7 separate regions of the Homo sapiens genome follow, and regions 1, 2, 3, 4, 5 and 6 are each linked to region 7. Evidence: fine-mapped expression QTL. A gene starts in region 7. Each other region holds a variant in brackets. All regions are shown on one strand. Distances are from middle to middle.

Region 1 (4,466 bases), 140 kb after region 7:
GCATTCTCTGTTTATGGGACTGTCTATACTGATGGAATGAACTCCTTAAGGATAAGGGAAGTTGTAAGTTTTGTTTTATTTACGTTCCTGGTCTATACACACGTTTATGTGCCTGGTCTTACTGATACCAGCTCTCAGAGGCTGGTCTGTGGACCTCGGTAGTAAAAGCATTATTCAATGGCCAGTGTCCCTTTAAGAAAAGGAAAAGAACAGACCTCAATTGTACAGAGCTGGAGCAGTCCTGGCCATTAATTCAAAATACATCTTATTATTGATCCACACAAGACATGCTTTTATTTATTTAAATGTTCTATTCATTATTTTTAATAACAAATGAAGCATCCATGCATTCACCACACAAAACAGAAGCTAGGAAGTTAACAATCACTTACGTGTAACCACATGACTGCCTTTCCCCACCTAAGGTAACCACATTCTTGAGTCTTTTTTTTTTTTTTTTTTTTTTTGAGACAGGGTCTTGCTTTGTCACCTAGGCTGAAGCACAGTGGCACAGTCATAGCTTATTGTAACCCTGAGCTCCTGGACTCAAGCAATCCTCCTGCTTCAGCTTCTGAGTAGTTAGGACTACAGGGACATACCACCATGTCTGGTGAAGTTTTTTAAAAAAAACTTTGTAGAGATAGGGTCTCCCTATATTCCCCAGGCTGGTCTCAGACCCCTGGGCTTAAGTGATCCTTCTGCCTTGGCCTCTCAAAGCACTGAGATTACAAGCATGAGCCATTGCACCCAGCCTCTTGAATCTTTTGTTAATCATTCCACTGCTTTCCTTTTCATGCAGTTGTATTGCATTTATATATATTCCCAGTATTTTAGTTATTTGAACTTTACGAAAAGTGTATTGAACTGTTGATAATTTGAAGGAATTTATTTTTTTTACTTAATATTAAACTAGGAATCATCCATATTACTGATTGCTGGAGTTCATTGTTTTGATGACGGTAGGAAATTCCATTGTGTGAATAAGCCATAATTTGTTCATTCATGCTTTCAATTTCAGGCATTGGGTTGTGTCAGTGTTTCTTCTATTGAAAGCACTGCTGCTAAGAACATTCTTGTACATGTCTCTTGTTGTAAATGTTCAAGAGTCTCCTTTGGGGATAGAACTACTAGTAGATTTGCTTGGCCATAAGGGATCAGAATCTTTAGGAGATAGTGAACACTCTTTTCCAAAGGTGGTTGTACCAATTTACACTCCCACCAGCAATGCCGAAGTGGACCTGTGTAGCCACAGTCTCTTTAATGCTGGATATTGCCCTACTTCTTAACCTTTGCCACTAAAATGGGCTTAGACTACATCATCACTGTCTTCAGTTGCATTTCCTTGATCACCAGTAATGCTGAAAATCCTTTGTTCTGTTTTCTTTGCCACTCGTGTTTTGTTTCTTTGCTATGTCTTTTCATGTCTTTTGACTGTTTTTCTTTTTTCTTTTTGAGACGGAGTCTCGCTCTGTCGCCCAGGCTGGTGGAGTGCAGTGGCGTGATCTCGGCTCACTGCAACCTCTGCCTCCCAGGTTCAAGCGATTCTCCTGCCTCAGTTTCCTGAGTAGCTGGGATTACAGGTGTGTGCCACCACGCCTGGCTAATTTTTGTATTTTTAGTAGAGACAGGTTTCACCGTGTTGGTCAGGCTGGTCTTGAACTCCTGACCTTGTGATCCCTCTGCCTCGGCCTCCCAAAGTGCTGAGATTACAGGTGTGAGCCACCGCACCCGGCCTTTTGTCTTTCTGTCAGATTGGTTGTATTTTTCTTATTGATCTATAGGATATTTAATATATTCTTTCTACTTATCTTTTGCTGATTTTATGTATTGTGAATATCTTCTCCCAGTTTATACCTTGTCTTTTTATTTAAGATGCATTTTCATGAGCAAAAGTTCTTAATTTTAACACAATCAAATCAATGTTTTTTTAGTCAAATTTTTGTGTGTGCCTTAAGAAATCTTTCTCAGTCCTGAAGTCTAAAAGATGTTCATTATTTTTACTAAGAATTCTATAATTTTAGTTTTGATACATAAATCCTTTATCTACAGAGTTTATGTTTTATATATAGTGTGAGTAGGAATCTGATTTTTGTCTTTCATTTTTGTTTTTTTCCCATTTGACCACACCTCTTTCCCAGCTTCATCTGCTGGACAGTTTCTCCTTTCTCCATGCCAGTGTCATTTTGCATTTTCAGGACATTGCTCTTTCCTACAGGCTGTGGGCTGAGTTGCTATAGCCTAGATTCAATCTCCGGTGCTGAGGACAGGGTTGCTGTAGACTGGATTCAGTCTCTGGTCCACAACATGCAGGTTCTCTGTGCTATCGCTCACTGAGAGCTGAAGGATTAGGAAAAAGGAGTAGCCTCTCCTCCTCCAGTCAAGCCCCTGAATTAGTCTTCAGTGTGATGTTAGCATCCTGGGAATTATGTGCCAAGGCATAGCACTTACCTTCTCTCGGCTTGCACTTTCTCA[A/G]TTATGAAAGAAATAATTTTCCTTATGGTAAGAAATTGCTTGGGCTCATAAAGCTACCTTCCTGTAGTTTCTTTTTGTATTTGATAATAACAGCACTGAACTGGGAGTGAGGAGACCTGAATCATAGTAAAAACAACATCAGCAGTTGCAACAGCAACTGACGTTTATTGACTGCTTATTATGCACTGGCACTGTGCTAAACAGTTAGGTATATTATCTCATTTAGTGCACAGTTGTGAGATCTTGGGCATGTCCCTTAACCTCTGTAGAACAACTGTAAATGATGACACTGAACAAGATTTTGTAGTGTTCCACCAACAATGAAAATCTATGTTTTAAAAAAGTCATCCTCTGCTTCACAGTGATAATAATTCTGAATCTTTTTCACATAATACCATTTAGTGCCTTAAAAACCCTCCTCTTCCCATTGAAAAATATTCTCCCAATACTGTGTTGAGAAGTATTGAGAAGCATTCCCCCAGTACGTCTCAGCATCCTGCCTCAGCTGGGGGCAAGGGATGAGGCCATTTTATAGAACCTTAAGTGAATGGAGGGCAATTACATGATGCATTCGAGGTTACACAGCTGGTCATTTAACAGTGCCTCATGTGCTGGAGCGTTTCATTTCTTCAAGAAAGTACCATCGATTTTGAGGACAAGTTTTTTCTCATCAGAGCATTTAGAGGCATCAAAGTTCTTCAAGTGAGGAGCCCACTTTGCCCGTTTCAACTGCAGTGTCACAAAGCCATAGCCAGCACCAAAACGTCCCTTCCACACTCTGGAGATCTGAGAAGGGGTTCTCCCTCAAATCCTCTCTTCCTGTTCTGATGTGACAGATTGCAGACTTCATTCTCAGAGAGAAACCTTCAGATCCAGAATCAGAGAAGACAGTGATTTAATGTGCTGCAGAACAAGTCCAAGAGAGATTTATGAAAGTGTCTGTTGGGGGTGAGGGTGCACTGAAGTTAAAAAAAATTGGCATACAATCAAGGAAAAAAATCTGTCTTAAACTTCCAAAAATACTTAGAATAGCAGCTTTCAATGGCCTTATGAACTACAATTTAATTAGGGGAGAAAAAAATTCCCGATCACTTCTTTAATAGCAATGTAAATAAACTCAATAAACTCTTCGTGTGTGTGTGTGTGTGTGTAATTTACCTCATTAAAAATAGAGAACAACAAAATCACTCTGTTCTCATATCTTTCAAACTATATTCCATGGGATTCTTATCTAGTTTTGGAATGATTCTTTGCATTAATGGAAGCATACATAATGAGGGCATTTATATAAATCTTTATAAGGTTATGCATTTACTCCAAAATTTTGTTTTCACTGTGAAATTGCAATCATGAATGATTCCCATTATGCTGAGGTGGGGTTTTAGAATGTTTGTATGGTTTGGCTGTGTCCCCACCCAAATCTCATCTTGAATTGGAGCTCCCATAATTCCCACGTGTTGTGGGTGTGACCTGGTGGGAGATAATTGAATCATGGGGGCAGTTTCCCTTATACTGTTCTCATGGTAGTGAATAAGTCTCACGAGATCTGATGGTTTTATAAGGGGAAACCCCGTTCGCTTGCTTCTCATTCCCTCTTGCCTGCTGCCATGTAAGACGTGCCTTTTGCCCCCTGCCATTATTGTGAGACCTCCCTAGCCACATAGAACTGAGTCCATTAAACCTCTTTTTCTTTATAAATTACCCAGTCTTGGGTATGTCTTTATCAGCAGCGTGAAAATGGGCTAATACAAGCATCCTGAGACTTTTATGTTGATCTGTTGAAATTTGATTTTGCTAGGTTATTTTTCCCCAACATCTTAGAATAGAAGGAAATTTCCTGAAGACGACAATACAGTTGAATTGAAAATTTGCTGCAGATTCATTTCAGTTCAAGTAATATTTATTAAAAATCTAAAACTGTGGCAGCACTGTACTGTGGGGACTATTAACAAAATACAGTAATAAGTAATGTATGGCCACCACTTATTTAACCA
Region 2 (4,466 bases), 390 kb after region 7:
CATACCAAACCCTCTGGCCTGATGCCAGTTTCTTGAAGTTCTCTAGCTCTTATGCCTTTGTATGGGCTCTTCCTTTTATATCTTTGCCTGAAGAGATCCTAGACACCCTTCAGCTGAGGCTTTACTTTTTGGGAAAGGCTTTCCTGCCTCCTGGGGCAGTGGTTCATCTGGGTACAAGAGACAAAGATTTTCTCAAGCCAAGTATACATAGGCTGGAACTAGGACAGGAAGGTGTTAGACTCTCAGTGGCTCACGGTTCTGGGGGCTGAACAAGAGGCAACCCCAGGGCAATCTCTTTCTCTGCTCTGGGTTTCTTTTATAAGCTCTGTGCCAGATTTCCCTGTCTCACCTCTCACCCAAATTTCATAGACAGCTGATGGGTTTGACTGATGACATTTATCCCTCATGAGTGTAGCACTTCATCCCAGACCATCTCGGGGGTCTCTGTCCATTGTCTAGGACTGGATGTCCCACCCCTGGTACACCACATGATTCCCTTGGTGGGGTTGTGGAAGGACAGTTTCAGCAAGAGGGCCTTAGGTGGACCCCATTGTGGCCGGCTTGGCCAGGACACATGCTAGTCAGAATGAAACGTATCCTATCCTGCCTGGATTGAGCGGTCATCACACTTGTCCCACACAGCACAATTACCTGCTCATAGGTCTGTGTTCCACAGCAGACTGTGAGCTCTTGAGGGCCAAAGCTGGTCTCTCAGTCCTGAACTCCCAGTCCCTGTCAAGTGCCTGAGATGCACGTGGTGGGCACAATGTCAGTGTTCCCAGAATGAATGGATGGAGGCATTTAGACCCCCATCCCATGTCATTCAGGGGAACCACATCGGCACAGGGAGGTGCATTCCAGCAAATGTTTTTATAAACTAGAATAATGGGGGTTGCTAATGACTGCTTGAGTAATCCCCTTGCCCCGAGTACACCAGCTGTCTTGCTGGCCAATTCTTTGTGGAAAGAGGGGATGTAGGTGTTCTGGATGCTATTGGTGGGAATGAGTGGGAGTCCTGGGGTATAGAGACCTTGGAGACTGGTTGGCTAGATGCAGATTGTAGAACAGGACTGTGTACCAGTCAGCATGGGGATCTGAGCCCTCAGCAGGCAGGAGATCCCAGAGAGAATTCTTCTCTCAGAGAAAGAAGAGGGGATAGCATCTGACAGCAGCACCTAGAACAGTGCCTGAACACCGTAGGAGCTCAATCTTTGCTCATTGAATTAATTAATAGACGGAGATAGCCATGTTAGCAGATTCCACTGAGACTGCATCTTGGCGTGGAGTAAGCTGGTGATTTAAATTGTTTAGAACATAATGTGGAAAAGATTACATCAATTCAATAAATCTGTACTGAGTGCTTGCTGCGTTCTCGGTACTGTTGTTTGGATTCAGATAGACCTACTTCTTATAAGCTGAATCAATGTGGGTAAGTTATTTAACCTCTCTCAGCCTCAGCTTCTTCATCTGTAAAGTGGGTATCCAACTGCCATTAGAGGTTCCCATCCCAAGCTCTTTTGGGGGATGAATTGGAACGATTAGAGACAACTCAAAATTAGAAAGCCGCGCTGACTTCCAGACACCCCTTCTCACGTGACATTCTCTTTTCCAGGTTCCTCCCAACTCTACTTCTTTCCACCCAGGATAACTGGCATTTCATAACAGAGGAGGTCAAAGGCAGACTTACTGGTGTTGATGTCATCCTTGTCATCTTCCTGACATCCAGGCCTCTAATAACATCTCTGCTCTTCCCATGTCAATGTCAGCACCAGACGTGTGAGGAAGAGCAATCACTCCCCAAATCTCATACTTCTACAGGGCTGGACTCCAATCAGAAAACATTCTAGGAGAA[C/T]AAGATGATAAAAATAGCCAAGATATTCTAAAGCAGCCAGGAGAGGCAAGAGAAGCAATGCAGGGAAGGCATGAAGCAAACACGAGGCCCATATCAGGCCAGTCTCCTGGAAGAGGGAGGCCCAGGCAGAAGGTTTGGGCTCCTGGAGTCCACTCCTCCTTTCTCGATTAGAGCTTCTCAAGATTTGTATTGGGCCTCTGTAGAATCTGACTTCTGTAGTGGCTCAATACAAATCTGTGGATACTCATTAGCAAACATCCACCTCGCAGCAGTGGGGTAAGGAGTCAATGATGTGATGCAGTCATGTAGCTGTGGATGAAAATGGAAGTAATTTGGAGAAGCCAGAGCTACATCCTCAACTCTGGATGGTGACAGTGTTGGGGGTAAGGACTGTTGCAGCATCATGATGGAGTGTATGTTTGGGAGAGCCTTTTTTTTTTTTTTTTTTTTTGAGACAGAGTCTTACACTCTGTCACCCAAGGTCCTACGTTGCCTCAGCCTCCTCATTTGTAACATGGGGATGATGACATTCTTCTCCCTTGGCTGTTGTAAAGATTAAATGAGAGTATGATGCCTATGATGATGACAATGACAATAGCATGATGAGCTTTGCTAACAATTATTGAGCACTTACTATGTGCCAAGTGCCTTATACGTGTGTTTGCCCTTTAATTTGTTACAGTACCACTATGAAGGAGATGCTATTTCAAATCTCCATTTAATAGATGAGCACATTAAGCCTTAGAAATGTTTATTAACTTGGCTAAGGTCACAGGGCTGGGAAAAAAGTCAAAGCAAGACTCAAACCAAGTCTATTCAATGCCACAGACTGTGAGCATAGCCATTTCTGAGCACAGTACTGACCCTGGGATATGCCTGACTGAGACCTTACCCCTCCAGCTCACCCCAAGGGCTCAGGCATGGTGGTATGGTATCATTTGTCTCACACACTCCCTGGAACCCTGTAATTTCCCTCCTGGCAGGCTCTTTTGTGATCCTGAGACAAGTGCTTATTTACCTCAACCACTTCTGTGCTCCAAAGAAAAGTTCAGCTCACCAGGAAGAATCATGCCAGCATTTCCCAGTGAACCACTCAGACAAGAAAAAATGCACTTTTCTCCCCCTGCGCTGCTTTCTAGTAACATTCGGCAGTAATAACAATAACATTAGTGGTGATGACAAGTCGAGGGACACAGCACACACTTAATGTTAGGCACTTTGCTAGTGCTTTACATATAAAATCTCTGTGCCCTATAGCTACTCCACACTGTAGGTACTACTGTTATGCCCATTGTATTGATAAGGGGTAGACAAACTCTGGCCCACAGACCAAATCCATCCTTCCACCTGCTTTTGTAAATAAACTTTTATTGGACTACAGCCATGCCAATTTGTGTATGTGTTGTCTAGGGCTGGTTTTGTGCTACAGCAGCAGAGTTCAGTAGTTGTCACAGAGACCATCTGGCCTCCAAAGCCTAAATTATTTACTGTCTGGCCCTTTACAGGAAATGTTTGCCAGTCCCTGATCTAAATCCTGACCCTGAGGATTAGAAAGACCTACCAGCTTTCCCAAGATGGCAGAGGGAAGCGGTGAGGGATTTAAAGCCAGACAGCCGCACAGCAGACTCATTGTATAGCCCCTTAGCTGTATTTCTTCCTGCTCTAGGCTTGGCAGAGAAGACATCTCTAAGCATGATAGTCCCCAACCCTTGACATTGGATAATATTCAACACAGACATAATGCTTGACAGGATGCACCATAGAAGGGACGTGATTCATTTGCAGACTGGCAGTCTAGACTCTTGCCACACTGGGTCTCATCTAGGTGTCTGTTCCCTCCCTCCCTCCCTCCCTCCTTCCCTCCCTTCCTTCCTTCCTTCCTTCCTTCCTTCCTTCCTTCCTTCCTTCCTTCCTTCCTTCTTTCCTTCCTTCCTTCCATTTGTCCGTCCATCCATTCTTCTCTGCTCAAGCTGAACTGCTGTCTTCATTTTTCTCCACGTTCCCACCTCGACAGCTTTGCTCACACCGTTTCCCCCATCTGGAATGCCTTCCTTTTCACATTTATCACAGTCCTACCCATTTTTCCAGGCCCGGTATATCTCCTTCAATAAGTCTTCCCCAACTGAGGCAACTCACCGGAAATTCTTTGGCATTTGTGCTGTATCAGCACAAGCTTTTGGTCCCTCCCTTAGATCCTTTGTGCACAAAAGTGAGGGAACGATGGCATCACGGATGATGTGTGAACCAGAGGGAAGAGCAAATGTGGTCCCTGCCTTTTCATCACCTAAAGATTCCAACTCCATGGAGCTCTATCCTTTATGCCCAGGAAAGAGCCTGCCAAAGGTCTCTGCCATTCATCTAAGACTTTAGACAGGTCACTTAAACTCCCTGAGCCTCTACTTCTTCATCCGTAATAATAACTGACACCGAGGGTTGTACCAAGCAAGGGCTGGCTGCTCTTCATGCATTGTCACATTTAAAGGTGATCCGTGACCTCCAGACTTCATGAAGTATTATGAAGACCGGGTGTAAAGAGGTCAAGTTAGAGGTCAGGACTCCCCAAGTCCTCTTTTGGTCTTGGTGACCTTTGCGAAGCTCCCCTTTCCCTCTCCAG
Region 3 (4,466 bases), 300 kb after region 7:
TGCACATTGCAATCTCCTGGGGCTAATCAAATACAGATACCGGTGCCCCACCCCTAAGGATATGATTTCATTAGTTTGTGAGATGGGCTGGCATCCAAGGTCCTTCTAATGTGAAGGCAAAGATTGAGAGTGGCTGCTATAGAAGAGCTCTTTCTGGTAAATCAGTCATTATCCTGAGCATCAAGAGTCTGCATAAATAAATTCAGAACTGTGTTTTGTTGTTAATATTGATACTGCATTCACCTGGGGAAGGAGGCTGCTTATTTGCCCACTTTTCAGAAACAATGAATCTTTAGTCCAGCTCCTTCCCTTTTCTTCCTTCGTTCGGCCTCCTTCCTTGTGAGGAGTAACAGCTGTAGAAGTCAGGGGACCTTACTGGCCGCACTAAGAGAGTACCTGTGTGTATCAGCCTTCAAGCAGTTTTGGGGTCAGACACCCACTTCTCAGACTTCCAGGCAGCTGCCAACCTTTGCCTTCCCTTCTTGGATTTCTTTCAACATGCAGATTTATGAGGTGGGGAATGCATGAGGGGTGGCTGGCGTCCAGACTTACTGTAACCAGAGAGAAATGAACAGAGCGTGCTCCAGGGGACATGCAGCACTTCCTGAACAAACTACTGGTGTCGCCATTAATGCTACTGACTTAGGAACCTCATGTGCCTTTTTGTCTTTTTCTTCACTCAGCAGGACCGGCATCTATTGCTAATGTTAGGTTTAAGCATTTAGGGCAGAGCATGCCAATCTTCCCTTGATCCATACTGCTCATTGATCAGTGGTCACATTTGTAGCACACCTCATGTCTGTGGGAGGTAGCTGTGGGGTTGAGAACTGCTGAGGCAGGGGGTTGAGTGTTCCCAATTAGGGGTTGGCAGTAATCAGGTACTGGGGCGGGGCTTATGCCACTTGCTTTATTGTTCACGTAATAACAGTGGACTTGGATTGTGAATTCCTTGGAACAAGAAGAGTCCCTTCTACTGTATTTACCCGGGAAGACTTCTCTGATTTCCTGGGCTGATTTGCATTCCCCTCCTAGGTACTTTGGTAGTTGTCCCCGGAGTGGATCATAGCCAATACCACCCTGTGTTGTTCCCACTAATTTACCTATCCGCATGCCCGTGAATCACAAACCCTCAAGGGCAGGGTGTCCCCAGTGCCCACACCACACTGGTTTTGTAGTAAGAGGTGCATGCACATATGCTAGGAGATGGAATGCTTATCAGCACCCACATTTCTTCCAGCCTAATTGTATGCGCTACATTCACACACACCTGGATCTAAATCCTGCTCTTTGCTTCCAGGCTGTCTGACCTTGGGCAAGATACTTCCCCTTGCTAAGTCTTGTCTCCTTCCTTTCTAGGATGCAGCTGATGATAGGACTGAACCGATTGGGTGCTACGGAGTATTAAATGTGATAGTATCTGCCAAGGGTTAGCACAGGGCTGCTCACGGGATCAGTGCTCAGTAAATGCTAGTTATCATGCAATCCTTATTGTTAGTTTCATTATTATCTGTATGATAAATTGATTGTAGTGTCATCTGCAAATAGGTAAATAAAGCATTATACATTGCCAAAACAACTTTAACCACCTTACACTTGATATTTATTCTGATTAAACAACAATGACCTGAGAAAGTAGTATAGAAAGTGATTGTGCTATGCTGGATACAATATCAGCTAGAATGCAAACGTTAGCAGCCAACATACTGACTGCAGCCATCTAAGATTCTTGGGAAGGCGGGAAAATTAATAGAAAGAGCACTGGAGAGGGAGTCCACGTGGGCA[G/A]GAAGCTAAGCAGCAGTGAAGACAGCGTGGCAAGATTTGGATAGAAGGACTGGCCAGCACTGTGGAGAGCCCTCTTAATTGGAGGGAGCAGCTGTGTATAAAGACAGTCTGCAGAGCAGCATGCCATTGCCGTTTCTGAGTAAATTTGTACACTGTTTGCTGTGAGTCACTGCCAAGATCCTCTCTTTTGTACATTATCAGATCAAAGCTTTAACTCGACCAAAAAAAGGTCTCATCTCCCATGCCTGTGTAGGGAAACTGAATCTCACTTGCGCCCTTCTGCTCCCATGGAACCATCGCAGAGGCCTAGAATGCCCTAGCTTTCTTTCTCTTCTTGTGTGCTAAGTCACCAAAATCTGACATGCTGAACTGTCAACTTAATGGTGGAGTTCGGGTTGAGAGCTGATTTCTAAAACCACTGCCACCTCTGGACAGCAGCCATTCGGATATCAGGTCAAGGTTTGGGAGACTATTAAGAAGCCAGCACCAAGACATGCTGGTGGAGAAGTCGGAGTTTTATCACGTCCTACCTACTTTGCGGTGAAATGAAGGTCTTCATAGTGAGGTGGTGATGAACGTTGCCGATGCGGTGAAGTCATCCTTCATCACTGTGCTATTTTGCTTAGAGCTTCAACTGCTACATTATGTCTTAAAACTTGTCAAGTTGTGCACAGTACACTGACTTCATAGGAGAAAAAACGCGTTGTGTAAAAATATAAAAAATCAGACATTTCTGGTAGAACGAGACATTATAACTCAAAAGTCCTACAGATAAATAATAATTAGGAATGGCATTTACTCCACAGAGCAGGAAGAAAACAACATTCTCTATCAGCTACATCCTCAAATGGTTACAGTTTCCTGTCTCTAACCACAACTAATAAAAGGCCAGGTACACAGCCTTTAGGAAGTTAACATAAATTTTTTCTTGGGGAGGTGGCATGGCGGTGGGGGGAACAACTGTAAAGAAGTCTGTTTCTGTTTCCTAAGTATTTTTGCCAATAAAAACAAAATCGTTCCCCACTTGTTAGAAAATGTAACAAAACCACCTGTCTGCCCTTGAGGAGATGGAGAACAAAATCAACAATATTTGCATTTTGACTACACACAGAATTAATCCATAGAAGCAGAGGCATTTTTGAGGCCCAAGCGTGATAACACTTCCGTGCATGGTTCTACAGACAAGATAATGTCCGTGCTTCAACGACAGAGATGGGGCTAGGCTGCAGCAAGGGCAGTGGGTTCCTAGGGCAAAACATTTTAGGACGGTTATTCCTCATCCTCAAACTCTGAACTTATCTGGCCATTTTAGGAGAGGAAACTGAGGATCCAGGAAGTGAAGTGATTCTCAAAGGTATCACAGCTAGTCAATAGCAGATCCAGTACCCAGGGAGGGAAACAGCTGATTATAAGATAATCAAAATGAATAAACACATCTATTCTATCCTGTGTGTATTTCGATGGGCATGTTGGGGAGAATCATTGGTGATTCTCAGACTCCTTTTTTTTTTTTTTTTTTTTTATGAATTAGCAGATCCTTGGATTTCACTGGAGAAACCAGTGTGGCTACTGATCCATTACAGAATCTAGCATTCCCCAGAGAGCAAAAACCTCCTCCTGGGGGGCGCGCTCCAGCCTATATAGATTTGGTGCACCAACACTGCACTGTCCTCATGAATAATCTCTGATCAGAGGATACTAATTAAGACGTGGCAATGCCCACTTAGTAAATTAGCTAAATTGACAAAACTCAATTTAAATAACAATTTTGTCTCTTGTGATAGAATTATAACGACACCCTTCACTTAATGAGCCAGACACTTAATAATTCAAACATACTTACAGAAAAATCAAACAAAGCTTCTCAATCCCAGACTGGGTTTCCCACCACCTCTCCTGCCACTGCTTTGCAAAAATGGTAGCTTGAACACTGTGGAGGAGAGGCTGGGTATTTGGTGAGGAGGGAGGGGCTGACCAGTTTCTGGGCAGAGTAATTGGTAGGTGACTCCTTCAACAAACTTCCAGCCAGCTGCCTGTTTTTGTAAATAAAGTTTTACTGCGGCACAGATATGCTTATTTCTTTGTATAGTTGTCCAGAGCTGCTTTCAAACCACCATCAAAAATTTGAGGAGTTGAGTAGTGGTGACAGAGACCTTATGGCTTGAAAAGCCTTCAACATTTATTATCTGGCCCTTTAAGAAAAAAATCTGACCCTTTGAGAACAAGTTTGCCAACCCGTAGACTTGGGCTGCACCTTGGATCTATGGTTCCCTGGGTGTGCAACCTTGAATAGATACTTCCCACATCCCTGGCCTATGATTTTCTTAAGTGTAAAATAGGGATGATACAAAGACTATCTCCTGAGACTGTGAGAATTAGGTAAGATGCTGCACGCTTATCTGTGCTTGGCACATAGTAAGTGTTCAATAAAAGGCTAATGAGATTAGTAAAAGCAATGATAATAGGAACATATATTGAGTACTTATATGTTCTAGACTCTGTGCTCAGTTCTTTATCTATATTAACTTGTTTAATCCCATAACAACCTATGAGGGAGATATAATTATTTTAATTTTACAAATGGATAAAGAGTATTTATTATTATTTTGTCTATTCTTCTAAATTCTCATTTAGTAACACTTTTGCCCAGTAGTAACTGCTCTCCTGGCTGGCAAGCTGCTCAA
Region 4 (4,466 bases), 67 kb after region 7:
CTGAGCTCAGGCGATCTGCCCGCTTTGGCCTCCCAAAGTGCTGGGATTACAGGCATGAGCTACCTGTGTCTGGCAGATTTTCTATTTTTCTTACCTCCCTTCCTGAAGATCCTCTGCAGCTCCCTCCTAACCCTGTGTCCCTAGGACACATGGAAAGTTGCTCTATTCTGCTCCTACACAGTGAAATATCGGCAGATGTATATGTTTGGTTGTTTTCATGGGACAGGATCAATTCAATTGGAGCTTTCCTTTGCCTTCCCAGAAGGTGTCACTAGAGGATGAAAATTAAATGACTTTTAATGTCGAGAAAAACATGGCCAATTTTGAGTGTCCCTACTTCCCTTTTTGCAACTGATTTCCTAGCATCCCTTCATCCCCGTGTTACCTACTTCTCCAGCCTCCCTGATGAGGGAAAAATGCTTTCTCTAAGCAATTCTGATTTTAATTAATACCAATCCAGGTGGGAGAGCTTCTTCTCACCCTCCATCCCCTCTAGTTAGTCAGCGTCTCTCCTGCTGTAATCCACACTAACTCTTGTCTCTCTCTCCCTCTGCCTCAGGGGATGTCAGGAACGACATCTACATTACTCTCTTACAAGGTGACTTTGACAAGTACAACAAGACCACACAGAGGAATGTGGAAGTCATCATGTGTGTGTGCGCGGAGGATGGCAAAACGCTGCCTGTAAGGGACTCACTGCTGCTCTGGGTGACAGGGTCCGCCTTGGGGGCCTCTGCTTGTAAAGACGTACTTTTCCTCTCCCTGATTCTGTTGTCTAAATGCCAGGTGCCTTTGGGATGGTGTTGAATAATGTGTTCAACACCTTTTGAGCTTGGTTAGTGCAGTGTTCCATAATAAGACCTTGTGATATTTCCTTACACCAAAGCAGTTTTTCAATGTCTGTTCCTTTCCTTTCACAACTTCTTCTTGTATGTATGTATGTATGTATGTATGTATTTATTTATTTATTTACTTTTGCTTGGTCTCAGCTTATAGGTTAGCTTTCTGCAGTTAAAATGTTCTCACTGAAACCTGAGCTGGTTTATTCAGGCAAAGTCCATGGTAAGAAAGAGGATCAATACAGTGCCTTGGGCTGGTGTGGAGGCTCAGGATGTGCTTAAAGCAGGCATTCTCAACACTTAATCTAACTCCCCAGCGCTCAGCCAGAAATGCTGGTGGAAAGCCTTATTCGTAAATTGGTCTCCAGAGAGCTAGCAGGGTGTATTCAGGAATGCAAAGCGCATTGCTATATTTATACAGCATATGTCCTGTCCAATATTTGTCATGTGTGTTTATATTTATTTGCTTGTATTTTCTTTAAGGTTGTCAGTGCTGTGTCCAGTGTGTAGGAGGGTTTTGTTTCTCAGTTCCTCCTGACAGAGTAGTTAGCTGAAAAGAAAATCAGCTCTCAGGAGAAATTTTAGCATGGGCGAATATTCCTCTTAGGCCACTGTGAGTGATCAAATAGCCAAGCAGGGCGGGTGTGTTCATCAGAGAGGGGATGTGAAGATGGAAGAGGCATCATTTTTGTCCTTGGGGCCTGGAGATCAGACTGATACTTTGTACCCAAGAATAACTAACATTCACAGGGGAATTACCATGTGTCAGGCTGTGTGATAGTATGACACATTTCCTTTATTATGCCCCATTTTACAGATAGGGAAACAAAACCCGTGTCACTTACAGTAACTCGCCCAAAGCCATAATGTTAGCATATGTCAGAGATGGGGTTTGACTGGTTCCAGGCCCTCTGAGACACTTCACTACAATGCCCGTACATGTAGCAAAATTCTCCAATTTATTTCTCATTTTAAAAAATGAGGCTAATAACCACTGCTGGCAAATTTGGGAAGATTCATAATCGTTTTTTAAATGTAAAGAAATCCTCACAATTGCCTTTTTGTTCATAAAGACTGGTCATGTTAATTAGTATCTATTTGAACAAAATCTAAGCATTGAACGCATCCTCCTTTTGTTGCAGTCTGAAACTTTTTCCAAAAAATAAAATAAGTGAGAAATACTTGACTCAAAGGAACATAAAGGAGCGGAGGGTTTTTATCTGAAAGGGAAATTGCAATTCCCAAATGTAGAGACCATTGCTTTGAAGTTACTTTTATCCAACTTCCCTGGTAGAGAACTTTTTAACCTCAGCTTCATTTTTGAAACATTGATACGCTTACCTTCCATGTTGCCAAAGGACAAATTAAAAGACACAGTTAACAGGCAAGCAGCCATCTTATCTCCTGTCTGAGCCACTCTTTCTTCCACTTTTGTCACCCTTTCAAGTCACTACCGAGCAGGCTGAGCAGATGCACTTATCCAAGATGAGTAG[G/A]TAAGCAGGTATTCTGGGGGCTGACATGGAAAGGGAACTGTGGGGCATGGTGATGATTTGTGGTTTCCTCTATTAGGGAAATTCTGGGGGAGTTCAGTTGACTGACTATTGAAAATTGCTTAGGAAGCCTGTGGGAGGCTTTTCTTTCTCTATTTGTAGAAATAAATATTACTGCCTAATTAAGTGTCAGTCAGTACATTCAAACACTTCTGTTTGATATTGGTGGGCTCCTGTGGAAATGGTCCCCTTTAGAAATATTGATTTCTCCTCCTGCTCTAGGTGCATGCACACTGTCTTTGGCAGAGCAGGACCAGAGGGCAGAGGAGGTTAGGCCTGCTCATGGCTCACCTTGGGGTGTCAAGGGCCTTGCTCAGGAGGGGTCATAGCAGAGAAGCTAATGGGGTGGGCTCTGGGGTCAGGCAGACAGGGTTCAAATTCCAGCCTCCCCTCATATTAGCTGTGTGATCTTAGGCAAGTTTATTCATGTGTAAAAAGAAATAATAACCTCTTCTCGTGGGGTTGCAGGTTAAACAAAAGAGTAGGTATTAAAACAACTAAAAGAGTATGATTGGATTGTTTATAACACAAAGGATAAATGCTTGAGGACATGGATCCCCATCTTCCATGATGTGATTTTTATGCATTGTATGCCTCTATCAAAACATCTCATTTACTCCATATATATGTGTGTGTGTGTGTGTGTGTGTGTGTGTGTGTGTGTGTGTGTGTGTATGTGTATGCACACACTATGTGCCCACAAAAATTAAAAATTTTAAAATTAAAAAATTTTAAAAATAAACATGCTGCTGGGCACAGCGGCTCACACCTGTAATCCCAGCACTTTGGGAGGCCAAGGGGGGCAGATCACTTGAGGTCAGGAGTTTGAGACCAGCCTGGCCAAGAAGGTGAAACCTTGTCTTTACTGAAAATACAAAAATTAGCTGAGTGTGGTGGCAAGCACCTGTAATCCCAGCTACTCAGGAGGCTGAGGCACGAGAATTGCTTGAACCCTGGAGGCAGAGGTTGCAGTGAGCTGAGATCGCACCCCAGCCACTCCAGCCTGGCCGACAAAGTGAGACCCTTTCTCAACAAACAGACAAAACACGCCATAGGTATAAGGCACCTGGTATTGCAGTAAGTACCCAGCAACAGGAAGGAGGGTCACATTCAGAGAAGAGGACCAAGTGCAGGGTGAAGCCCTCTGAGGGACCTGAGGGAGTCAAACAGGCAATCCAGCCAGAAGCAAATTCTGGTGAAAGAGAAAGGCTTAGATGCTGGGCCAAGAAACCTCTGTTTTTCTGAGACCACCCAACTTGAGGCGGTGGAGGCAGGGGATAGGGGAAGTATGGGATAGTGGTTAAGACCATGACCCCTGGGGCCAGACAGCCAGGTGCAAAGCCCAGCTCTGCCTGAATTAGTAAGAGGATGTTGAGGCAGTTACATAACCTCTCTAAGCCTGAGAGTCTCTGTCTGAAAATAGGACCAGCAATGGCACTTTGCTCTTGTGAATATCAGATGAGGTAATCTACATAATAGGTGTGCATTAAATTTAGCTATTATTATTAGAAGGGTATACTGAGCTCCCAGCCTGATTCCTACCTTAGGCATGCTAATCGACATCCCATGATGTGGTCTTGTGAGAGGAGAACACTGTCTTTCCTAAAGTGTGTTCACATCCCTGGTGTCATCTCTTTCTCACCTGATTCCTACCAAGTAAACAGGACATGTGTTAGGAGCCTGGTTTTTCTTCCTGCAGAGATGTTTCTTCTAAGGCCAAGCCAACATGAAAGCCTCCAGGCTTCCTGATCCATACTCAGATTTTCTTCAACTGACCTGAAGTCTCCCACACCTATGAGGGGCTCTCACTGTTAATTGGGGGCCATGGGGATAGGCAATGTAGAAAATTATGGAACAGTGTTATTTGAGATATATACCAGTGTATATTTTCCCTAGAACTGGGCTCAGTCCCTGGTCACAATGCTCTCTCAGTGCACTTCCCAACACTGTTATTTCTCTGAAGTGCTGAGGCCTATGGCACTATCTTTGGCTTTTCTCTGACTGGTACTGAGACTTTTTTCTCCAGCCTTAGGAAATCAAAAATTTTCATCATCAGTACAGTTTTGTGAGATCCAGT
Region 5 (4,466 bases), 440 kb after region 7:
ACTCTCCCTTAAGGTAGCTGACACTTAGACAGTATCCACTGACCTCCTATGGGGACAAATAAGACTTCAACTCCCTCACATCAATCCTCTCTTCTTCCCTCATCTTCCTAAGGCTTTTATTATCATTTTTCAGAGCTCCCTACTGGGGGGTTAACTTTATGATATTAGCACATTCATATCCTTCTTCAGCAGCTGTATGAAGTGCAATTGGCTCCATGTGGTAAGATGAGGCTATGCCCCCTCCTCTGTTTTCTCTCAGCTCTTGCCTTCCTCTATCTCTCAGCTTCTGACATTCATCCTTTCACTTTAGTATTGCCAAGAACATCTTAGGCAAGGTTTTAAATCAATGCAACAGAGATTCCCCTCCTCTGATCCCCACACTCTGCCCCCAAGTAGATTCTTTAAGGGGGCAATTTTCCCAACCATGTGGCCTTTCATGGGGAAGAGGGGAGTCCAGCCCTCCTATGAGGCAAGGGAAGCTGGGGGTCTTTCTCTCCTTTCCAGAGCAAACCTCATGTTTGCAACTTTCCCCATTTCCCATGGCTGGGGACCGTGTGTGCAGGTTTCTGAGGACCCTGAAGCCCTTGATGAATTCTTAGCAGGCAGACTTGACTGCAGCTGCCTTGATGGGCGGGGTGCCAGGCTGAGGCCCACCGGTCAGCCTCTGGCTCATTCTTTACCACTTTCTCTCCAGATCCCCTTCTTGGGAGCTGGGATTAAGATCCATGAGAAAAGGGTGTCAGATAACTTGCGACCCTTCCATGACCGGATGGAGGAATGTTTCAAGAACCTGAAAATGAAGGTGGAGAAGGAGTACGGTGTCCGAGAGATGGTATGGGTGGTTCCTATGGCTTGGAGGGGTGGGATTGTGCAGGGTGGGGCAGGGAAGCATGCTGGAGGCTGAAGTTGGAGGGGATCCAGCAAAGGAAGCTGCTTCCAAAGAGAAGATAATGATGGCCAGCATTGCTGGATCCCATCCAGGGGAACCCTCCTGGAAACTTGGTCCAGCAAAAGTAACCCCCAGACAAACTCCAGTTACAACTGGATTGTGCAGATACCAACTACTCAAGGGACTGTGTAATAATAATGAAAGCTACACTGATGCAGCATCTACTATGTGCCAGGCCTGATTCAAGCACTTGACATCTACTAGGTCATTTAATCCTCACCACAAGCCTGAGAGGCAGGAAAGATTTTTAATCCTTTGTATTTCTTCTGAGGTTCAGAAGGTCAGGCAACTTGCCAGAGGCTATGTGGCAAATGAATGTGGGGCAGAATTTGCATCTGGCTCTGTTAGTTTAAGGCCAGTGATTTTGACCGCTGAGCTCCTTGGCCTAAAGAGGCCATGAGCCTGGTGCTTACGGGGTGCTTCTTCATCCTTTTCCTTATTAACTGGTGTTATAAAATGTCAAGGCCATGCAATTCCTTTAAAACCATCTGGTCCAGCCTTCCCATTTTACAGATGGTAAAACTGAGACCCAGAGAAGAAAAGTGAATTACTGGAAGAACCTACAGATGCACTCAGGTCTCTTGATTCAAAGATTTTTTTCCATGAGGCAGTTTGTCACTTTCAATACTCCCTACATGAAGTCCCTGTAATGCAATTCTGGTGCTAACTCCCTGGAGTTAGGTCACATTTCACAGGTTAGAAGCACAGTCTTAGACACTTCCCACTTCAAACACCAACCATAAGCTTCAGGGACCCAGGCCACCCACACTTCTGCCTAACTGGTTACAAACTGGGAGATTCCCACTACCCCATCAGGTTTCATAATTCACTAGAATAATTCACAGAACTCAGGAAAGCATGATACTTATGATTTCAGTTTATGATACAAATCAAGACCAGCCAGGTAAAGAGACACAGAGTGAGGTCCAGGAGGGTCCCAAACATGAAGTTTCCACGTATTCCAGATGCATCCCCCTTCTGGCACATTGATGTATGATTACCAGCCAGAGAAGTTCACTAGAGCCTAATGTCCAGAGTTTTTATTGGGGTTTTATTATGTAGTCATGATAGATTGAACCATTGGCCATGTGATGGAAATCAGTCTCTGGGCCTGTCCACTCCCTGGAGGTTGAGCTGATACCACATGGCTTAAAGCCCCAGCCCAGCCCTATAATCATAGAGCTGGTCTTTCTGGCCATCAGGAGCCATCTTATTAGCATAAAATCAAGTATGGTCAAGGGGGCCACCATGAATAATAACAAGGATACTACTATCACATAGGAAATTCCAAAGTTTTAGATATTACCTTCCAGGAACCAGGAGTAAAGGTCATCCACATTCTTCATTCTACAAGAACGCCCTAGCCTCAGCCAGCCAGGAACTTTTGTGCTGATGCTCCACTCAGCCCCACAACTCTGCCCTGCCTAGGTGGAGGAAGAAGGTGACAGGAAGGCTGGGGCCACCTTCCCCAGGCTACAGCTGCT[A/G]ACCACCCTGTTCTCCCACCACAGCCTGACTTTGACGACAGGAGAGTGGGCCGTCCCAGGTCTATGCTGCGCTCATACAGACAGATGTCCATCATCTCTCTGGCTTCCATGAATTCTGACTGCAGCACCCCCAGCAAGCCTACCTCAGAGAGGTCAGTCCCTGCACCCCAAGGAGCCCCCCACACCCCTGCCTCCCTGGCTCTATCCCCCCTCCTTCTCTCTCTTCTCCGGCAACATCCCTTCTACCTTTCCCTTCCTCCTTTCAGTTTAAAAGCCTTTTCCCATCTGCAGTCTCACAACTACCCCAGGAGGCTCATGGTTAGTACCATTTTTAGGGGATTATCAGAGGCTCAGAGAGGCAAGGCAGCTTTCCTGAGGACCCAGCAGGAGTCACCTGCAGCCCCCAGACTTCTAGTCCAGTGATCTCTGTCAGCCAGGCAGAGCTCCTCACCAAGCCTGCATCCTTCTGGAATATTGTCACCTCTCATAGGGATCTGTTCCCTTTCAAGGAAGCTCCTCCCAACCACGATGGGATGTCTCCATTGCAGAGCTCTTCCTCCTGCACCACCTACCCACCCCTCTGTCGGGGGTCTTCCCTCCCTTGCCCCTTCCACCTTCCTGGAGCCCTCTGGCCATCATTGTTGGACCCTCCAGAAACTTCCCTGCGGGCCTCAGAGGTTACTCTTGCCCAGAGGGAAAAGGATGGAAACGTCTTCTGTTTCACAGTTCTAGGGGGCATCATTCACAATTCTAGGGGGCACCATTCACCCTGCCCAACTCATCTGTTCTAATCATAGATACATGAGCAACCCAGCACTTACCATATGCCAAGAATATGCCAAGGGTTCCTCAGACATCATCTCATGGCCACTCTGCAAGGTCTCTGCGAAGACCTCCATTTACTGAAAAGGAAATGATGGCTTGAAGAGGTTGAGTGATTTACCCAAAGTTATTCATTCAGCTAAGAACTGGCCGTGCCTGGATTTGAATCCACATTCATGCTTTCAACCAGTCTTCTCTCCTCACCACCAGTTTCTTTTCTATGGCTCACTTCTTTCAATTTCATTTTACCACGAATAAAATAAAGTGAACTTTACTCATCACATTTAACTGTTTGTGCATTGAGCAAGTTGCTCCCCAAATCCTCTGCCAGATTTGCTGATCTACTCCAGACCCTGTAGTGACAGCTCAGGCAGCCCAAAGGTCCCCTTCAGCTTCCTGGGTCCTTGCAAGGCAGTTCTACTGAAGCTCTAACTGCAGTTTCTATTGCTGCCCCTCTGGCCTTTCAGCTTTGACCTGGAATTAGCATCACCCAAGACGCCGAGAGTGGAGCAGGAGGAACCGATCTCCCCGGGGAGCACCCTGCCTGAGGTCAAGCTGCGGAGGTCCAAGAAGAGGACAAAGAGAAGCAGCGTAGTTTTTGCGGATGAGAAAGCAGCTGCAGAGTCGGACCTGAAGCGGGTGAGTGGCTGAGGCAGATTGCCTCTCCAGCGCTGTTAGCACATTTCCACTACATGCTGGGCACAAAACCCAGGGCTTCCAGATATGGGCTTCCTGAAGCCTGCCACTGCGGTGCTATGGGTATTGCAGAGGCGGCACCTGAGGAGCTGAGAGGTGAAGTGCTTACTCGTGCCCAGGCAGCTGGGGTGGCTGGGACATGACAGAGCTGGGAGTTGAGCCCTGACCTTTGCACTTCAGAGCCTGTGTGTATCCTTTCCACCATCACACAGGGCTTTTCCAGGCTGGGGAGAATCCACCTGTTCTCCCACCAAAAGGGAGAGCAGCCCACTTGGTACTGAGCTAGGTGTTTCTATAGCCCCCAGCCCCAGGCCTATTCTAACCACTGATGTCTCAGACCCCTGCAAGCCCCTCCTGTGTGCCAGGAGTCCAGGTGGGGATACAGGGATGAAATCTCACTGTCCTGGCTTTGAGAGTGTTGGTCTTGTAAACTAACGATTATTTAAAAATGAGACTTGGTTTCAGACAGCCCTGGATTCAATCTTAGTTTCCCCCTGGAAAAGAGGTTTGTTGGA
Region 6 (4,466 bases), 200 kb before region 7:
ATTCAGCATAGAAGTTATGTCACTGAAGAACAAGTGAAGTTCTTCGATGCTGGATACAAGACAGGATGCCCAGTTAAATCTGAATTTCAAATAACCAATATTTTTAGTATAAGTATATCCCAAATATTGTTCAGAGCACACTCATACTAAAAATTTAGTTGTTGTTCTCTGCAATTCAAACGTGGAGTTTCCTTTATATTTATTTGCTAAATCTGGCAATCCTAGACATATATCTTTATTGTTTCATTTTCATCTTATTTGTTAACATAAGCAAAAGCATCAGCAGTCATAGTGGAACTATGCTTGTTCATCAGTTGTAACCAAAGATCATCTGTGGATATAAAAGTTTGATAGCAATCATCAAAATAATTCCATAAGAATCAACTGACTATATGAGATTTGCAATAAAGAGTATTTTATATGGTATCATTTATAAATTTCTTGCAACATATCATTTATATCAGTAAAATGTATAATAAACTTACATGTGTATGCATATGTGTATATATACACACTTTTTCATTTTTGGAGAGTTGGTCATTAAATATTTATCGGCAAACCACTGGAGACAGTGAGAGAGTGGTACACCACCCCTTCAGAATGCATACAAATTCACTTTTCTAAACACTGTTCTTCCAAATCAAACTTTCTCACCTATTGCCTTCCAACTGTTCTTTTGCTGTATCAGACCTAGGACAGGTCAAAGTCAGGGCCCCATTAAGTAATAATGACCAAGCTCACACTGTTGAGAAATCAATCATCTCCAAAGTATCTGAGCACAAACAACTGAAATAAGTTTTCTCTCTGCTTAAAGGCTAAGTTTAAAAATAATAAAGGGAGGAAGAGGATAATTCCTCCCTAACCCCCTACCCACCCCCTTTGTGAGCCTAATTCCATCATCTGAACTATTAAACATTCACTCCCATCTCCACCCAATTACCCACCCAAGCTGAGAGGCATCTCTGGGTGCCACCAGGCTCTGACATATGGGACTCATAACCATGAGCAGATAGCATCCGCATTCTTGCCAGAGTAGTGCTACATCTTGGAAAGACTGATGCAGTTGCAAGACTGCCCAGTTATGCTTCTGCTACTATTCTTTCTGACTATGACTAAAGGCCACATGGACCGTGATTAGGGCAGCCATGGGGCCCAAGAGGTCCACGGAATGCAAGAGCTCTTCTCAATTACGGTTAAATGCACGAAGAGCAGGAAGCACATCAGTGAGGCACACCTTTAGGTCGTCCCATCCCCAGAGAGACAGATTGGCAAGGGCAGAAAGGAAGACAGGCTGGGCCTCCAATCCAGATGCCTGGAAAGAGCCAGGGGCTCCAGACAGGCTGGGTTTCCACATTCCAGGGCTTAGCTCCACTCCCACTTGATTCTCATGCCATACACTTGCTTTGTGTTAGCAACAAGAAAGAATCCACAAACTTTTGAGCAATGCACACTCTGTTGCTTATTTTATGCTCGCTCTCTCTGTCTTTCTCTCCCCTCCCCTCTCTGTCTTCAGAATGAGCAAAGACACAATAGAAAAACACATAAGAACAGAATCTCAAGTTTTAAGTAGGGAAAAGAAATTAGTAGAAGCTTGACCCTAAATGTAGGACATTAAACTTCTTATTTGGGTGTAATTATAATATTGCACATAGTATTAAACACTCCCATGGATATATTCCCAACTCTAAATCTCTATCCTAGGCCAGCATTTCCCAAAGTGTGTTCAGATAGCTGTTTATGCATATTTTACAGAAAAATGGAGGGACAGTTCCACAGTCAAATACGTTTGGAATATTTCCTGTTAAATTTTTAATTAGATGTGTTTGCCGCAGGACTTCTCAGAGACTTCGATATGCAGATGAGCTTTGGGAATCTA[T/C]TCACTGGAGGGAAGCTCACCAAGTTTCCTAAATTTATTTCAGTGCAGAATCCCTCTTTCATGGAGTATCTTGTAGAACTAGTGTTCTAAAGAAGAGATTTATAAAATGCTACTTAGGCTCTAACTATTTTCAATAGCTTTCCATTAATCAGTGATCAATTTACCATTCAGATCTCCATGACTTTATTCACCTACTCTCTTCTCTCATCTTCAACTATCAAATGATTTGTCTTTCTTCGAGATCCTTTAGGTGTTCTCAAAGCCCCCATCATAATTCTCTTCTCTTCTTTCTTTGCTTCCACAAGACTTTCTCTGTGCCAATGCCACCATCATCACCATAAGCTTTGGGAAGGCAGCAGAGCTTGGCGGGGTAGGGGGTGGAGGTGGCCTGGACAAGAAGCCAGCGATTTGGAGTCAAAGGCCAGCCCCACGTGACCTTGGTCATGCTACTTTACCTTCTAGAGGCTCAGTTTCCTCTTATCTAAAATGGAATACATAATATTTTTGTCACAGATCCATTGTGAAGAACTCATGAAAGGGTTTCATGAAAGTACTCTGCTATCATAAAGTGAAACTGAAAAATTATCATTTGCCTCATTTTTCCTAAATTTGTTTTATCATAAGAATCACCTGGGGCACTTACTAAAAAGAGAGATGTCTCTGAGGAATCTGTTTCCATGACTGGGACCTAGAATTTGTAATTTTAACAAGCTTGCCAGGTTGTTAAATCAGAAGAATTTAGAAGGCACTGAATTATCTGAAAGAAATTAGAAATAAATGGTGATTCTGATAGCAAAAGCTACAGACAAGTGGGAGATAGTTGACGGGGGGGGTGGGAGGAAGGAAGTAAAGCCACACACTACAGGTCTCCTTTTACTGATTACACCGGGTAGGTGTGTGTATATCCCTTCATCGGCTAGAGCTTGGTTGGATATTTGAACTTTGTGCAGTAATTCTGGGAGTACACACTTCCGATACTATATTGTGAAGTACCCCACTGGTCAGGATTTCTCTAAAGTGGTCCTGATGACTTCTTCATTTGAATCTTGAGTCTCAAAAGAAATAAATTATAACCTTTGGATCATCATAGAGATCTTCATTCAAGAAATCAATTTCACTGCATTTCTAATTAAGGATTTGCTGAGCCCAAGAAAAGGAACATATCTATGCACCTCCTGGTGCCACATAAGGCATTTATAACTCTGTATATAATTGTTGAGGTCTTTATGAATGACCAAAAGAGAAAAAATGACCCATCTCTGAAATAATCTCTTTGTTTGTATGTATTCTTTATGCTTTCTCCATCTAAGAGCTGGGATTACTTTGGGAATTTATGTCTTCAACAGAGGAGCAAAGAAATAAAAATGATATTTGCTTTATTAAAAATAGAATCAACACCCCAAACATAAACTCATTATTTATAGAAAATCCCCTTTTTGTCAAACCACCAGCAGAGCCGCTACTGCAGCTGATTTTTTTAAAAAGTTCAAATAAAAGCTGGGAAAATCTTGTAGCCATTAGACCATAATCGGTATGAATCACCAATTTGTTTTTCATGACTTTTTCTGCATTCCTTCTATATTTTGCAGTTTATTTTGTTCAATGTTTTCAGCAACAGCTTTGCCAAACCCCAGAATCGAGAAGTCATCCAAGCAGGGAGTGCGTGTGTCCCACTCTACAAGCTGCTTGCTCAAGTAACAAGGCATACGTTTGACTTATCTCCCTTCTCATTCTTTTCTGTCTGGTTACAGGGACAGGCAGAGAACAATCCAACCTAAACACTGATAGGTAAGGCCTTAAAGAGTTGAGGATGCCCAAGAAAATTCCGAGCATTAGGACCCTTTCTTTTCCAACTACTCAACGTGCATCTTACAGAGACTGAGGCCTTTAAGAAAAAAACAAAACCAAAAAAATGCAGTTGTGACCAGTTGGCAGCAGCCCCACTATGGCTTAGTTAGTGCAATAAATAGTTTACTTTAACTTAGCTCCAGCCTACTGAGTCTCTCTCTTCTACTCCTATACACAAACAGTCTACTTTTTATTTACAAATATTACACATCTGCATGTGAAACCACACTCTCTCTTGTTAAATAGATATTTATTTCTCTTTCTCCTAACATGGGGAACTAGTTTTGAAGTAAGTTAATCCTTTCACTGCACTAAATATACTGGTATTTCTGGATCTATCCTAGTGGTGGCAGTAGGATGAGTATCAAGTTTATTCATTCAACCATCCATTCATTAATCCATTTATTCATTTATTTATTGTGTAAATATTATTAAGTGCCTATTCTGTGAGGCACAGGCATTGGGTTAAGTAATGGCAATTAAATACATGAAGTCCCTGCCTTGGTGAAACTGTATGGTCTAATGGGAGAAACAAACATTAAGTGAATGATTATATATATATATATATATATATATATATATATATATATATATATATATATGTTAAATTTTAATTCTAATAAGAGATGCAAGGAGAATTAAAGGGAGCTATGAAAGTTCATAAAAAGGGAACTAAAGACCATGTATTATATGATTCCATTTATTAAAAATGTCCAGAGTAGGCAAATCTGAACAAACAGAA
Region 7 (4,237 bases):
AAATATCTGTGGAGCAGAAGAAGGCTTTTGGAGCAAATTTAGAAGGTGGGTGAAAATATAAGATATTTAAAGCTTATGATTATTAATTGTAATATTCACCATCAGGTACTTTGTGGAAAATATCTAAATCTGTGATGTTATTGAATCAGTGGTATCAAAGGTTAATTTTATTAGCTTTTCTGGACTTTTAACCATTGCCCATTTGGTAAACATTTTTTTCAGAAATAGAAAGTAAATATCCTGTCAGATCAGCATTAACATATGAATATTTGAATCAATTTCGATAAGGCACATTAACTTTGAACTCCAATAAGGTGAAATGTGATATCATTCCCAAAATGTATTTTTTTTTGCCTTACTAAGCTAGTATTACAAAAAATACTCATTCACATGATATTTTGAATTTTATTAATAAAAAAAATTTAGAACCTTTTTTCTTTCTTTACATAAGTACCTGCATCCTACATATATACTTGATTTTGCTTTCTGGACTGCAAAGACTAAAATACTATCTGTGACTTTACAGAAAATGTTTGGCATCCTCTATTGTATAGTCCCAATTTATAACATTGTTGTGATAGCTAGTTTTGTGAGTCAACTTGGCAAGGCTATGGCCCAGTTATTCAATCAAATACCAATCTTCACAATCTTCACAGGGGTTGCTGTGAAGTACTTTGTAGATGTGATTAACATCTACCATACATTGAATTTAATTAAGGGAGATTATCCTCAATACATTTGGTTGGTGTGATCCAATTAGTTGACAAACCTTATGAATAGAACTGAGGTTCCTTGAAAAAGAAGAAATTCCTCCTGAGGACATCTGCCTGTGAGTTTCCAAACTGCTCTTCCTGACAGCCCCACAATCGCATTAGCCAATCCCCAATCTCTCTCTGTCTCTCATATACATATATATGTATGTGTATATATATATATATATATATGCATATATGTATGTGTATATATATATGCATATATGTATGTGTATATATATGCATATATGTATGTGTATATATATGCATATATGTATGTATGTATGTGTATATATATATGCATATATGTATGTATGTATATATATGTATGCATATATATAAAATCTCCTACTCTGGTCATCTGGTGGAACCCTAATACCACTGCTGACTGTATAAGACATTATTACCTAATTTGTGCTGCTAGAAAACAGAAAAGAAAATAACTGCAGATAAAACAAAATCAATAATTTTTTGTTGCTCCAGTTCAGCTGTGATATTGCCTAATCTATCTTAATGACTCTCCAGTGTAAGGCAGAAAGGGGTAGTGAGAGTCATGAATAAAGAAAGAAAACTCAGCAAAACTTAAATTCAGCCTTATCACTGTGGATCAGACTTTTTTTTTTTTTTTTTGGACAGAATCTGTTCTCAGAGCAAAAATGAGATTTTTCGAGGAAATGTCTCCATTAGCCTAACTCTAGGGCTCTTTTCCTGGGTCCCACTGTTGCTGGCTGTGACAGCACCCTTCACCTTGCAGTGATGTTGGTAAATAGTGTATTTACGTATTTTCAGAGTAGAGCTTCTAGAGCTTACATCAGATTTTCCAACGGGTTTGTAGCACCAAAACGATAAAAAGCTGTAAATGGGCCAGGCACGGTGGCTCACACCTGTAATCCCAGCACTTTGGGAGGCTGAGGCTGGCGGATCACCTGAGGTGGGGAGTTCGAGACCAGCATGACCAACATGGAGAAACCACGTTTCTACTGAAAATGCAAAGTTAGCCGGGCATGCTGGTGCATGCCTGTAATCCCAGCTACTGGGAAGGCTGAGACAGGAGAGTCGCTTGAACTCGGGAGGCGGAGGTCGCGGTGAGCCGCGATCGCGTCGTTGCACTCCAGCCTGGGCAGCAAGAGAGAAACTCGAAACTCCGTCTCACAAAAAAAAAAAAAAAAGGCTGTAAAGGATCCACCTCCAGGTAAACATTTACTCTTCCATGTCACCTGCTGTGTACATTGTCTCTCTAACCCTCACAATAATCATATGAAGTAGGTATTAGTATCCCATTTCACAGATGAGAAAACTGAAGCTTAGAAAAATGAAGTCATTTGTCCCCGTCTGGATTCGAACCGAGATCTGACACCAAAGCTCATGCTGAGGGGAGTTAAGGAGGTTTGTTCAGTCCCTAGGCACGGCAATCAGGAAACTCTCTGCACTTGCGGTGGTGGTCTGGCGAGCCCCAGGTGGGGACTGGCCTCTGCTCCCTCGCCTGGGGAGGAGACAAAGTGGGAGTGGTCCCCAAGTTTTGCGTGAAGTGGGGTGGGGTGGCGTGTCTTAGCCTACGGGGCACCAGCCTTCTAGTGTGCCCCTGCCCAACGGGAGGGAGGAGGGAGCGGGGAGCCCCGGCGAGGGAGGAGAGGGCGGGCCCTGAGAGGAGTTTGAAAAGAGGAAGGAAGTGGGGCCCTGCGGCGCCCAGCCACCCCCTGACGGCTTCCCCACGGGAGGACGCGAGGCCCCGGCCCAGCCATGGCCCCCTGGCGCAAAGCTGACAAGGAGCGGCACGGCGTGGGTAGGTGCGGGCCCCAGGGCGCGGCAGGGAGCGGGACAGGTGGCGGGAGAGCCGCGAGCAGGAGGATGCTGCGGGGCCGGCGGCGCGGGGTGGGCAGGGCGCGCTGCCTGCAGGTCAGAGGGCGCAGCCTGCGGCGGGGCCTCGGGGCGGGAAAGCCGAGGCTCGGGGAGAGGACGGCGGGACCCCACCCCGCAGGCTAAGCACAGCCCTCGCCCTCTCGCCTGCTGAGGGAACCTTAGACATTTCCGAGATAGGGTCAAGACCTGCGCTTGACAACTCAGTTCTTCGCGCCAAACTCGGCGTCCCCAGGAGTGCCCCAGCTCGCCGCGTGGGAGACTTGGCCTTGTAGAGGGAGCTCCACTCTCCCCTGGCTCAGCCTTGGCCTGCCCACCATGCATACTTCCACCCCCTCCAAAGCGACACCCATTTGCCTGCTTCCCCTGTCTGTTCCTCCTGGGTCAGATGACTCCTGATTTGGCAGGGCATCCAGAGGGCAGCTCAAGCTTGGGGGAATGGGGCTGGACGGTGGGGTTCTCTACTCAGCCCCCCAGAGCCTCTGGGGAAAAAGGCTCCCGCCAGGTGGTCTTAGGGTAACCAAGAAGCTAGCTTCGTCAGCCTCAGCCATCTAAACTCCCAGAAGCCTCTGCCTGGAGCTCAGGGGCGGAAGTGGTGGCTGGGGGAAGGGAGGCCTCAGGTGCTGCTACTCTAAGTGTCATCCGTGGTGCAATCTCCATGGACTCACTGTGGTTTTTAAACTTAAATATCAAATAAAAAGTCACTCTGGAGCTTCCTACACAGGCGGATACCAGACACCATCTCAGAGATAAATATTTCGCAGGTGAGGCATTGGAAGACCCAAACACCCAGAGGGATTTGATGCAGGGGGTCCCCAGGCCACTGTTTGGGAAACACTGCCCTGGAGAGATCAGCAGTTATCCACTCAATTACTGGGTACCGGGCACTGTGGGGTCATTTTGATATAAATGGTCCCCATCCAGAGAACAAATAATAATTCATATCTCAAGGGGCAGTTACAAAGTAAGGAAGGATACAGCTTCTGCCCTTGAGGAGTTATGTGTAAGGCTAGAGGCTTGGACTGGGAAGTCAGAACTGAGTTCAAATCAGGGTCTGTTTCCTCGTCTATAAAGTGGAAGTAATAATAATGCAGGTCTCATGAGACTCTTGTGAGGATTGAATGGGGTTATGCATGGAAAGCATTTAGTAGTGTGCTGGCTCAATAAGAGTTAGTGATTCAGGTCCAGGGTCTTACCTAGCAGCTTCAGAACCAAGAGACACCAGCACCAAGATGCACCCTAATGCCAGATTCAGGACAGTCATGCCTTATGAGACTGTAGTATTTCATGGTTTGCAAGACCAAAGGTCATGCAATCTCTGTCTGACTTCAGAACCCCCATGTGAGGCAGTGTATTATTCCCAACTTACAGGTGAAGTAACCAAGTTTACATCACTTGGAAGCAATGGAGCGGGCCTTAAATTCAATTGTCTTCAGACCCTAGGCCCTTTGCATGGCACCAGAAAAGCATCTAGAAGGGGAACATCATGGGTAAAGGCAGGGAACTGGCATCCCTGAAGTGTGTGGGTCAAACAATAAGTAGTCTGTTTTGGTTTTAGTATTGCTTTTAGTGTTAAAAAAATTTCAGAGGTAGATTATGGCTAGATTGTGAAGGGCTTTGAGTGCCAA

Alleles and levels. Positions count from the first base shown, and alleles are read on the strand shown. Sizes are in standard deviations (SD) of each study's normalised expression. Not every link is listed here.
In carriers of allele A in region 4, the expression in testis of the gene that starts at base 2,441 in region 7 tends to be lower than with G alone (large effect, 0.79 SD a copy in GTEx).
For the expression in fibroblasts of the gene that starts at base 2,441 in region 7, T is the low allele of the variant in region 6 and C is the other (moderate effect, 0.61 SD a copy in GTEx).

The links.
Region 1: its variant is fine-mapped to the expression of DOCK2 in whole blood (TOPMed, PIP 0.95).
Region 2: its variant is fine-mapped to the expression of DOCK2 in whole blood (TOPMed, PIP above 0.99).
Region 3: its variant is fine-mapped to the expression of DOCK2 in whole blood (TOPMed, PIP 0.98).
Region 4: its variant is fine-mapped to the expression of DOCK2 in testis (GTEx, PIP above 0.99).
Region 5: its variant is fine-mapped to the expression of DOCK2 in whole blood (TOPMed, PIP above 0.99).
Region 6: its variant is fine-mapped to the expression of DOCK2 in fibroblasts (GTEx, PIP above 0.99).

What each region holds. Positions count from the first base shown.
Region 1 is chr5:169,769,847-169,774,312 of GRCh38, forward strand. The region is part of intron 25 of DOCK2 (dedicator of cytokinesis 2); the gene reads left to right. Among named protein-coding and RNA genes, the nearest start is that of DOCK2, 130 kb to the left of the region's middle. The variant A/G (reference allele first, on the strand shown) is at 2,473.
Region 2 is chr5:170,022,076-170,026,541 of GRCh38, forward strand. The region is part of intron 33 of DOCK2 (dedicator of cytokinesis 2); the gene reads left to right. Among named protein-coding and RNA genes, the nearest start is that of MIR378E, 4.2 kb to the right of the region's middle. The variant C/T (reference allele first, on the strand shown) is at 1,853.
Region 3 is chr5:169,933,296-169,937,761 of GRCh38, forward strand. All of the region lies in intron 27 of DOCK2 (dedicator of cytokinesis 2), which reads left to right. All of the region lies in intron 1 of INSYN2B (inhibitory synaptic factor family member 2B), which reads right to left. Among named protein-coding and RNA genes, the nearest start is that of INSYN2B, 45 kb to the right of the region's middle. The variant G/A (reference allele first, on the strand shown) is at 1,783.
Region 4 is chr5:169,701,744-169,706,209 of GRCh38, forward strand. It overlaps DOCK2 (dedicator of cytokinesis 2), which reads left to right. Exons shown (of 52, transcript NM_004946.3): 14 at 560-684. Among named protein-coding and RNA genes, the nearest start is that of DOCK2, 67 kb to the left of the region's middle. RefSeq lists enhancers at 1,170-1,219, 1,280-1,689. The variant G/A (reference allele first, on the strand shown) is at 2,333.
Region 5 is chr5:170,075,253-170,079,718 of GRCh38, forward strand. DOCK2 (dedicator of cytokinesis 2) reads left to right here. Exons shown (of 52, transcript NM_004946.3): 47 at 695-832; 48 at 2,458-2,585; 49 at 3,723-3,894. Among named protein-coding and RNA genes, the nearest start is that of FOXI1, 28 kb to the right of the region's middle. The variant A/G (reference allele first, on the strand shown) is at 2,434.
Region 6 is chr5:169,432,199-169,436,664 of GRCh38, forward strand. No RefSeq gene overlaps it. Among named protein-coding and RNA genes, the nearest start is that of SLIT3, 130 kb to the left of the region's middle. The variant T/C (reference allele first, on the strand shown) is at 1,877.
Region 7 is chr5:169,634,835-169,639,071 of GRCh38, forward strand. DOCK2 (dedicator of cytokinesis 2) reads left to right here and starts at 2,441. Exons shown (of 52, transcript NM_004946.3): 1 at 2,441-2,535. The coding sequence starts at 2,493. RefSeq lists silencers at 2,309-2,788, 2,819-2,878 and an enhancer at 3,139-3,238.